2 linked regions of the Homo sapiens genome follow. The protein of the gene in region 1 interacts with the protein of each later gene in a pairwise test. Each region holds a gene or a part of one and is shown in the gene's direction. Other genes may lie near its edges.

The links.
Region 2: the proteins of TESC (region 1) and DYNLT3 interact in a two-hybrid assay, tested with the Homo sapiens proteins (one large-scale study listed by BioGRID and IntAct).

What each region holds. Positions count from the first base shown.
Region 1 is NC_000012.12:117,050,612-117,054,430, reverse strand, and holds part of TESC (calcineurin B homologous protein 3), read left to right. Parts: intron 1-3,819. UniProt on the Homo sapiens protein: Functions as an integral cofactor in cell pH regulation by controlling plasma membrane-type Na(+)/H(+) exchange activity. Promotes the maturation, transport, cell surface stability and exchange activity of SLC9A1/NHE1 at the plasma membrane.
Region 2 is NC_000023.11:37,841,355-37,844,791, reverse strand, and holds part of DYNLT3 (dynein light chain Tctex-type 3), read left to right. Parts: intron 1-2,886; coding exon 2,887-3,010; intron 3,011-3,437. UniProt on the Homo sapiens protein: Acts as one of several non-catalytic accessory components of the cytoplasmic dynein 1 complex that are thought to be involved in linking dynein to cargos and to adapter proteins that regulate dynein function.

The sequences.
Region 1 (3,819 bases):
CAGTGTGGTGTGGGGAGGGCAGGCTGCATCGGACAGCATCTGTGGACCAGCAGCAGCAGGGGTCTTCAGGAGCCAAGATGGGGGACGCTGACGGACTTTAAGGTGAGGGTGTGAGGGGGTGGGTGAGCCAGGTTTGCACTTTGCAGAGGGTGCTGTGACTGCTGGTTGGTTGTAGGGGTGGGAATGGGAGGTGGAGGCCAGGGAGGAGTGAATCATGGTCCCGGGCTTGGGTCAGGGGTGCCCCGAGGATCTGGGGAGCAGGGGGCAGCTCTGAGCCACCTGGGAGGTTATAGATGAGGAAGGGTTGGATCCGGGAGTTGGGGTGAGAGACCTGGTACCGCAGGAATCTTCACAGCCAGTTGTCATGTGTGCCAAAGAGGAGGGGCCTGTGGAGCTTAAGTGACTGTGAAGTGTGTGAAGTTGCACAGTCAGTGGCAAAGACAGAGTGGAATCCGGTGCCCTCACCTCCTTTTAAATCCTGGTTCTCAGAGAAAGGACTCAGGTGGGCAGTGCGTCTTAGGCCAGTCCCCAGATGAGCCAGAGCAGGCATCAGGGTGGGAGGCGTGCGGCCCCTGACAGGGCACCTAGAGTTGGAGGCACTGACAGGAAGATGGTACAGGGGACCAGAGCCCAGGGGGTGCCTGTGGGTGCGTGCGTGTGTGTATGTGTATGTGTGTGTGCGCGTGCGCGCGCACGCGAGAGAGGGAGCATGTGTGCACGTTTAGGGGGTGTGTGTAGGCACGAGGCTTGTTTCCAGAAGGCTTGGGTGCAACTTTGGCCAGTTGTAAAGTTGGAAGAGGGAACTTCTAGGGTGGATGAGATGAGAGGTGGATTTCACAAGGGCATATGTTCGTCCAAACACAAGATCTGTGCATTTTAGTGTATGCTCTTATTCCTTAAAAAAAAACTTGACCCAAGGTCACTTGGCTGTCAGTTGTCACTTGTAGGAACTGGGATTCCAACTCGGGTCTGTCTGCCTCACGATCCTGGACAGACCCAGGAGTTGTGTTTTCGGCTCTTGGGGTGGAATGCACACACCTGCCAGGCTGTTTTCCATGAACAGCCGAGCTCCAGGAGACAGGGTGTGGGGAAAGGGCTGGGGCAGATGCCTCTCTGTTTTCAGAAGACAAGAGGGTGCACTGGGTATGCCGCTGCCAGACTTAGGGACAGGCAGACGGAGGCAGTAGCCTCCTCCTCCTTTGGAGGGTCTGATTTAGGCCAGAGCTGTGGGAGGACTGGCACAGGCGTGGTGCTCCCTGAAGGAGGGGGCAGGGACCTCAGTCATTGGGGAATGTCGGGTGTCCAGAAGTTGGACGTTGAAACAAGTGACCACATCTCAGGGGGACTCCAGGCGCGACGGGCCTGTGGGGACCCTGAGGAGGGAGCTAGGCAGGAAGGGGCGGTGAGGTCTGGGCTGGTGTGGGTGGCTGAGACCACCCTGCAGGCCTGGGAGACCAGGTGGGATTGGGGATTACCAGGAGAACTGGGGAGGCCCCAGGAGGGTGCTGAGCAGGGGAACAACAGGCTCTGATTTGCATTTTGCAAAGCTCATTCCGGCTGCACTTGGAGTGCGTGAGAAGGTGGGGGCTGGGCCAGGCAGCTGCAGAGGCCAGGAGAGAAAAGGAAGGTTCCCAGGGCACTGACTAGAGGTGTGAGCCTGGGGGTGGGTTGGGTGTGGGGGGGCATCCAGGAGACTCCGGGTCTGGAGCTGAGGGCAGCTGTCATTGTCCCTGCCTGACAGAGCTGTCGTTGAAAGATGGTCAGGGATCTCCTGGGCTGAGCTAGAAGTGGAGGGCGGTGGCCAGGTATGGGGTGGTGAGAGCCTCCCCTATAGGTCCCTGGACCTCGGCCTCTGGCTGCTTCTTAGAGAAACCTGGTGTGGAGAAAGGAAGGTGCCAGTGACTAAGGCTGGCCCAGAAGTCACTGAGGGAGGGGATGATTTTAAAAAGGGTTTCCTCTGGCCTGCACCCAGAACAACTTCGTGGGCTACAGCTGGGAGCCTGTAACTATTGGAAAAGGGCTTCACATCACATCCTGTAAATGCTGAGAAGAAGCTGGAGGAGGATTTCAGAGGAGATGCTGGAAACAGGATTTTCCTTTCAAGAAATACCAGCCTCAGCCTTTGTTCCTAAGACTCTTTGGGAACAGGTCTTGGGGAAGGGGTATTTTGAGCAGAGGCCATCCCCACCTCCAGGGCGCCCCATTCCTTACAGAAGAATTGGAAAGTTAAGGGGGCATCTTTGCAAAAAGAGTGAAAATGGCCTGCCCTCATGCTGGGTTGCAGATTTAGATGTAGCCCCTGTTTTCTGTCCACTGATCTTCATCCTGGTGCTCATTTTAGAAATGGGAGTTAGAGGGCTGGGTGTGGTGGCACGCACCTGTAATCCCAGCTACTCCAGGAGGCTAAGGCAGTAGGATTGCGTATGGCCAGGGTTCAAGACCAGTCTGGGCAATATAGCGAGATCTCATCTCTTAAAAAATAAATAAATAAATAAACTTTTATTTAAAAAATGGAGTGGAGAGCAAGTGGGGCTGGTTCCAGGTGCTCTGTCTGGGTTTCTTTGGCACTGGCTGTCATTGCCTTTGGAGACCAGAATGTTGGTCTCTTCAGACCTGCGGGAGCACTCGGAGGGGAAGGGACCCTCCTTCCTTGAGTTGGGTCCTGAGGCTGAAGCAGTGCCGGTCACAAGGTTCCCAGAGAAGGACACACACCTGCCTTCCCCAGGGGTCTATCACATTTTCACCCATGCTAATCTTAATCCCTCTTGCTGCAGCCTAAACCACTTGGGAAGGACGTGTGAGCCAGTCGCTGTGGGAAGGGCTTTCAGAGCAGCCCGATAAGTCCGGGGGCTATTTTTATGCTCTGTAAATTTGGTCTCTGCCGCCCACAGTGAGAACTTTGAGGTTATTAAAGCCTGTGGCAGGAGCGGTGGGGAGCTTCATACGATAAAAGAGAGAAGAGAGACCTGTGAAAACACATAAAGATGGGGCTTCCTGAGCCCAGGGAAGGACAGATCTCATCCCGCAGATGGGCAGTTTCTTGATCCGCCTTCCCTAATCCAGACTTGGGACCCCACCTCTCCCTGGAAAATCTCCTGGAAGAGAAAAATAAAAAAGTGGGAGTTCCCAGGACACTTAGAGGCTGTCGTATGGGTGTTAGTGTATTTGCTGGGTGCTGAAAAGGAGTAGTAGATGAACCTCTAAAGAGAGAATTGCAAACATATTCCTTTACATGGAGGTGCAGTCGTGCCCTGGGTGGGACCCAAGTAACATATCCAAGCACTAACCACTAACTGTTAGCCACCCCGGGCCAGCTAGGCACTGCCCCTTCCGAAGGGCCACAGTGAGAGGCTGTGGCAGAAACTTGAGCTTGCCAGCCATATGACAGCCTGCCCCAGCAGCCTCGGGCGCTCATGGTCACAGTCCAGTAGAGATAAGGGTTTGACGACAGTGGGTCAGGAGCTTGGGTTTGGAGTCATCTCCAGGCTGTTTTGTTTCTTTCGTTTGAGACAGGGTCTTACTTAGCCACCCAGGCTGGAGTGCAGTGGCGTGATCTTGGCTCACTGCAGCCTCGGCCTCCTGGGCTCAAGTGATCCTCCCACCTCAGCCCCCTAAGTAGCTGGGACTACAGGTGCACACCACCGCACCCATCTAATTTTTTGTAGAGACAGGGTTTCTCCCTGTTGCCCAGGGTGGTCTTGAACTCCAGAGCCCAAGCAATTGGCCTGCCTCAGTCTCCCAAAGTGCAGGGGTTACAGGCGTAAGCCATTGCGCCTGGCCTCCGAGCTATTAACAACTGCCAAGACCTGAGCTGGACCA
Region 2 (3,437 bases), on another chromosome or scaffold:
GGGTGGAGAGGGAAGGAGAAACTAAAGCCCAAGTTCAACACATTTGGGAGACTCCCAAATGAGATGTTAGAACAATGGTTATCACCCACCAACCAGGTAACTCATTCCACCTCCATGGGGAGGAATAACTGACAGGACAAGAGGCCAGGAATGTTAAAGAACAATCCTCTGCGTTGAAGAAAACATCCAGAGTGGAAAAGAAACATGTTTCTAACAGTGTAAATATATTTAAGTTAAAAAATCGTGATTTCACTATATTGAGAGAAGGGGGCGGGTGGTCTGAGGGAACCAAATTTTCATCTATCATAGTAGGAGTTACATGGATGTTGCCTATAATTCATAAATCAGGAAATAGTGAGATAAACATTATTTGGAGATACATAAGTAACCCTTGGAAGAAATAAAAACAGTTGTACACTGATGAGTTTCCTCTGGGGAATGGGACTGGGGATGGGAAAGGAAAGGGTGGGAAGGAAACTCTTCATTCTAAGCTTTTCTGTTCTACTGGATTTTTCAAACCATATGCCTGTTACTTTAATATTATATCAAATTAAAAGAATCATGCTTTTTCAACTGGGAAATACATACTCGGCAGTGGCTAGGTGGTGCTAGAAGTCACTGGATGCATTTTAGAACATCAGTTTTTCTTGAATATTTGTGAGAGGGAGTTAAGTAATATAAATAATATAACTGAAAACATTTTTGAATAAAAACAAACTCTGATGCATTATGTAGTCAAAACAAGCTTCTCTTGAATTTTTATATGAAATATGAGACTGCAAAGAAACTCAGCTTTGCTACAGGTTACTTGCAGCTAAATGTCTATCTTTCCTCTTCCCATGAACCAACCCTCTTCTGCCATTGAAACATTTCCATTGAGACATTGGAAATGCCTGAGAATGAGCAACATTTTAAAACAGTTTAGCACTTCCTAGATGATTACATAATTTCAGCAGTTATTTCTGATTTCCTTACTGATCTTATTTTCTTATTGATCTTATTTTCTTTCCTTTGATTTCTTGCTCTGAGCCCCTATGCTAATATGTTTTTCCTTCTGAACTCAGAGACACCCATTTATCAGTAATATGCATACATTTTCTTTAGTGTTAGTAATAGAAATTGCTTCCCCAAAAAATCGTCGAAGAAAAAGTGAGCTACAAATGACTTAGAATTTAGTCTAAAGTGTATTTGATTTAAGATACCCAGCGAGTATATCAAAACCAATATTGCTTCAACAACATTTGTTGAATACCTGCTAAGTGCCCAGGTCCTGAGTTTAGCACTGAGAATACAGAGCTGTTTAAGGACCTCATTGTCTCATGGGCCTCCATGTTAATGTAATTAATTAGGCTAGATGTTAATTAATAGTAATTAGCAGGGCTATTTACAGTGGCACCCACACCCCATGGTGTTTTCTGCTGTTTAGAGCAAAACTTGGAGTGGTCCTACTAAATAACCTGAAAGAAAAATGAGTGCTCTTACTTTATCCTTAAGGAAAGGTGATCTCAAGAGAGGAATAGGTTTGTCCAAAGGTCACCAGCTTAGGAATGGTAAAGCCAGAATTAAAATTCTATTCCCCTGATCCTTAAGCCACTACCCTTCCTACTTTGTCATGTTATTGAGCTTTCTAGGAGAAAAATTTGAGCCATATTACTTTTGTCAACCTTGCTAAAATATTTCATTTCTCTTTTCATATTTTATCATTAGTGAAGATTTTATACTATCCAACTTAAGATTTTGTATTAGTGCCTTCATAAATCTTTACTGTGGTCTAATTATAGTAAATAAAGCTGCATGTGTGTGTATGTGTGTATTATTAAGCTAGATTCTAAAAATGAATTAAATGAGTCTAATGATAGTAAATGAAGCTGCATGTGTGTGTTAGATTCTAAAAATGAATTAAATGAGTGCTTTATTATCCAGGCTTTATCACTCAAATATAAAATATAACAGCAGCAATATGATAATAGTAGTTAACATTATTTATATGCTAACTCTGTGCTAGTCCTGTTTGAGCACTTGGTATTCATTGTCTCATTTCATCCTAACAACAACCTGATAAGATGATGCTGTTATCCTTACTATAAGGATTAGGAAAATAGGGATTTGAAGGGGTTAAGTCACTTGCTAAAGGTCACATAGCAGATAGGTGTCAAAGTAGGCCTTAAAACCTAGGATTGTGATACTAGAGCCAGTGCTTTTAATCAGGTGTCAGAAGTGGATGAAATCAAGCACTATGGGAAATTATGATATTTGACTTTATCTTTCTAGAGCATCTTTATTTACTTTCAGTGGCAAGTGTGCTAGTTGTTTCATAGCTAAACAATCACATAGTATGAATGAGAATATAATCAGTTGTTGTTTCATAGCTAAACAATCACATAGTATGAATGAGAATATAATTAGTATACATAAGAATTATGTTTTTAAATTAGTCCCATCCTGTTTCTAGCATGTGAGCCCTAGTTCAAATCCCAGCTGTTTCAAAGCTACTTGTTAACCAATTGATAGCACCTTTTAATTTCCCCACCATAATTTTTATGACATAATTTATCATTAGTCTTCCTTGTGTTATAGATATTCGAATTTTTTTATTAGCTTCTCTGCTAGATTAAGTTATTTACACAGAAGCCATGACATATTTATCTTTATATGGCCCATAGTATCTCATAGAGTGAGATAATGCAAGTGGAAACTCTTTCAAAACTCTTAAGCAATTAGAGACAGTGCATAATCAATGTTTACCAAGTGTATATTTTCTAAGATGCCTTATTGAGCTATAAGTATATTTTATGTTTTGAATAAATTTTTACTGCAATTTGTGTAAAAATTGTTCTTTTTGAACAATTTTACTGACTAAATTAACTGCCCTCTGTGCCCTTTTAGTGTGTAGATGGGGTTTTAGGTGGTGAAGATTATAATCACAACAACATCAACCAGTGGACTGCAAGCATAGTGGAACAATCCTTAACACACCTGGTTAAGTTGGGAAAAGCCTATAAATATATTGGTAAGTATCAGTATCCTTCCTCACTAGTTCACTTGCTTTTGTCATTGTGATTTTCTCTGAATTTTGAGAAGGTATATGTACAATAGACATTTAAGTTGGATACTAAAAGGGTATAAAGGACTTCTGATTTACTCATTCAAAGATAATCTATAATAATACTTAAAAGATGAAGATCTTTCACTACTCAAAGGCAGTTTGAGCTACTTTTCTTTGGTAGCATCACCCTTTGCATTTCCATCAGTTCTTTCTTTCCACTGAGACCCCCCCTTAGCTCAACTGTGTTTCTTTCGGTAGTCCCATGCCTCTTTACCTGTAATTCCACACAGCAACTGTTTATAAAGTGGAGTATTTCCTGCATTTCTGTGTCTGAATTCTGCCCATGGTACAAAGCACAGAATTTGACTGATATTTTTCCTGCAATACAATC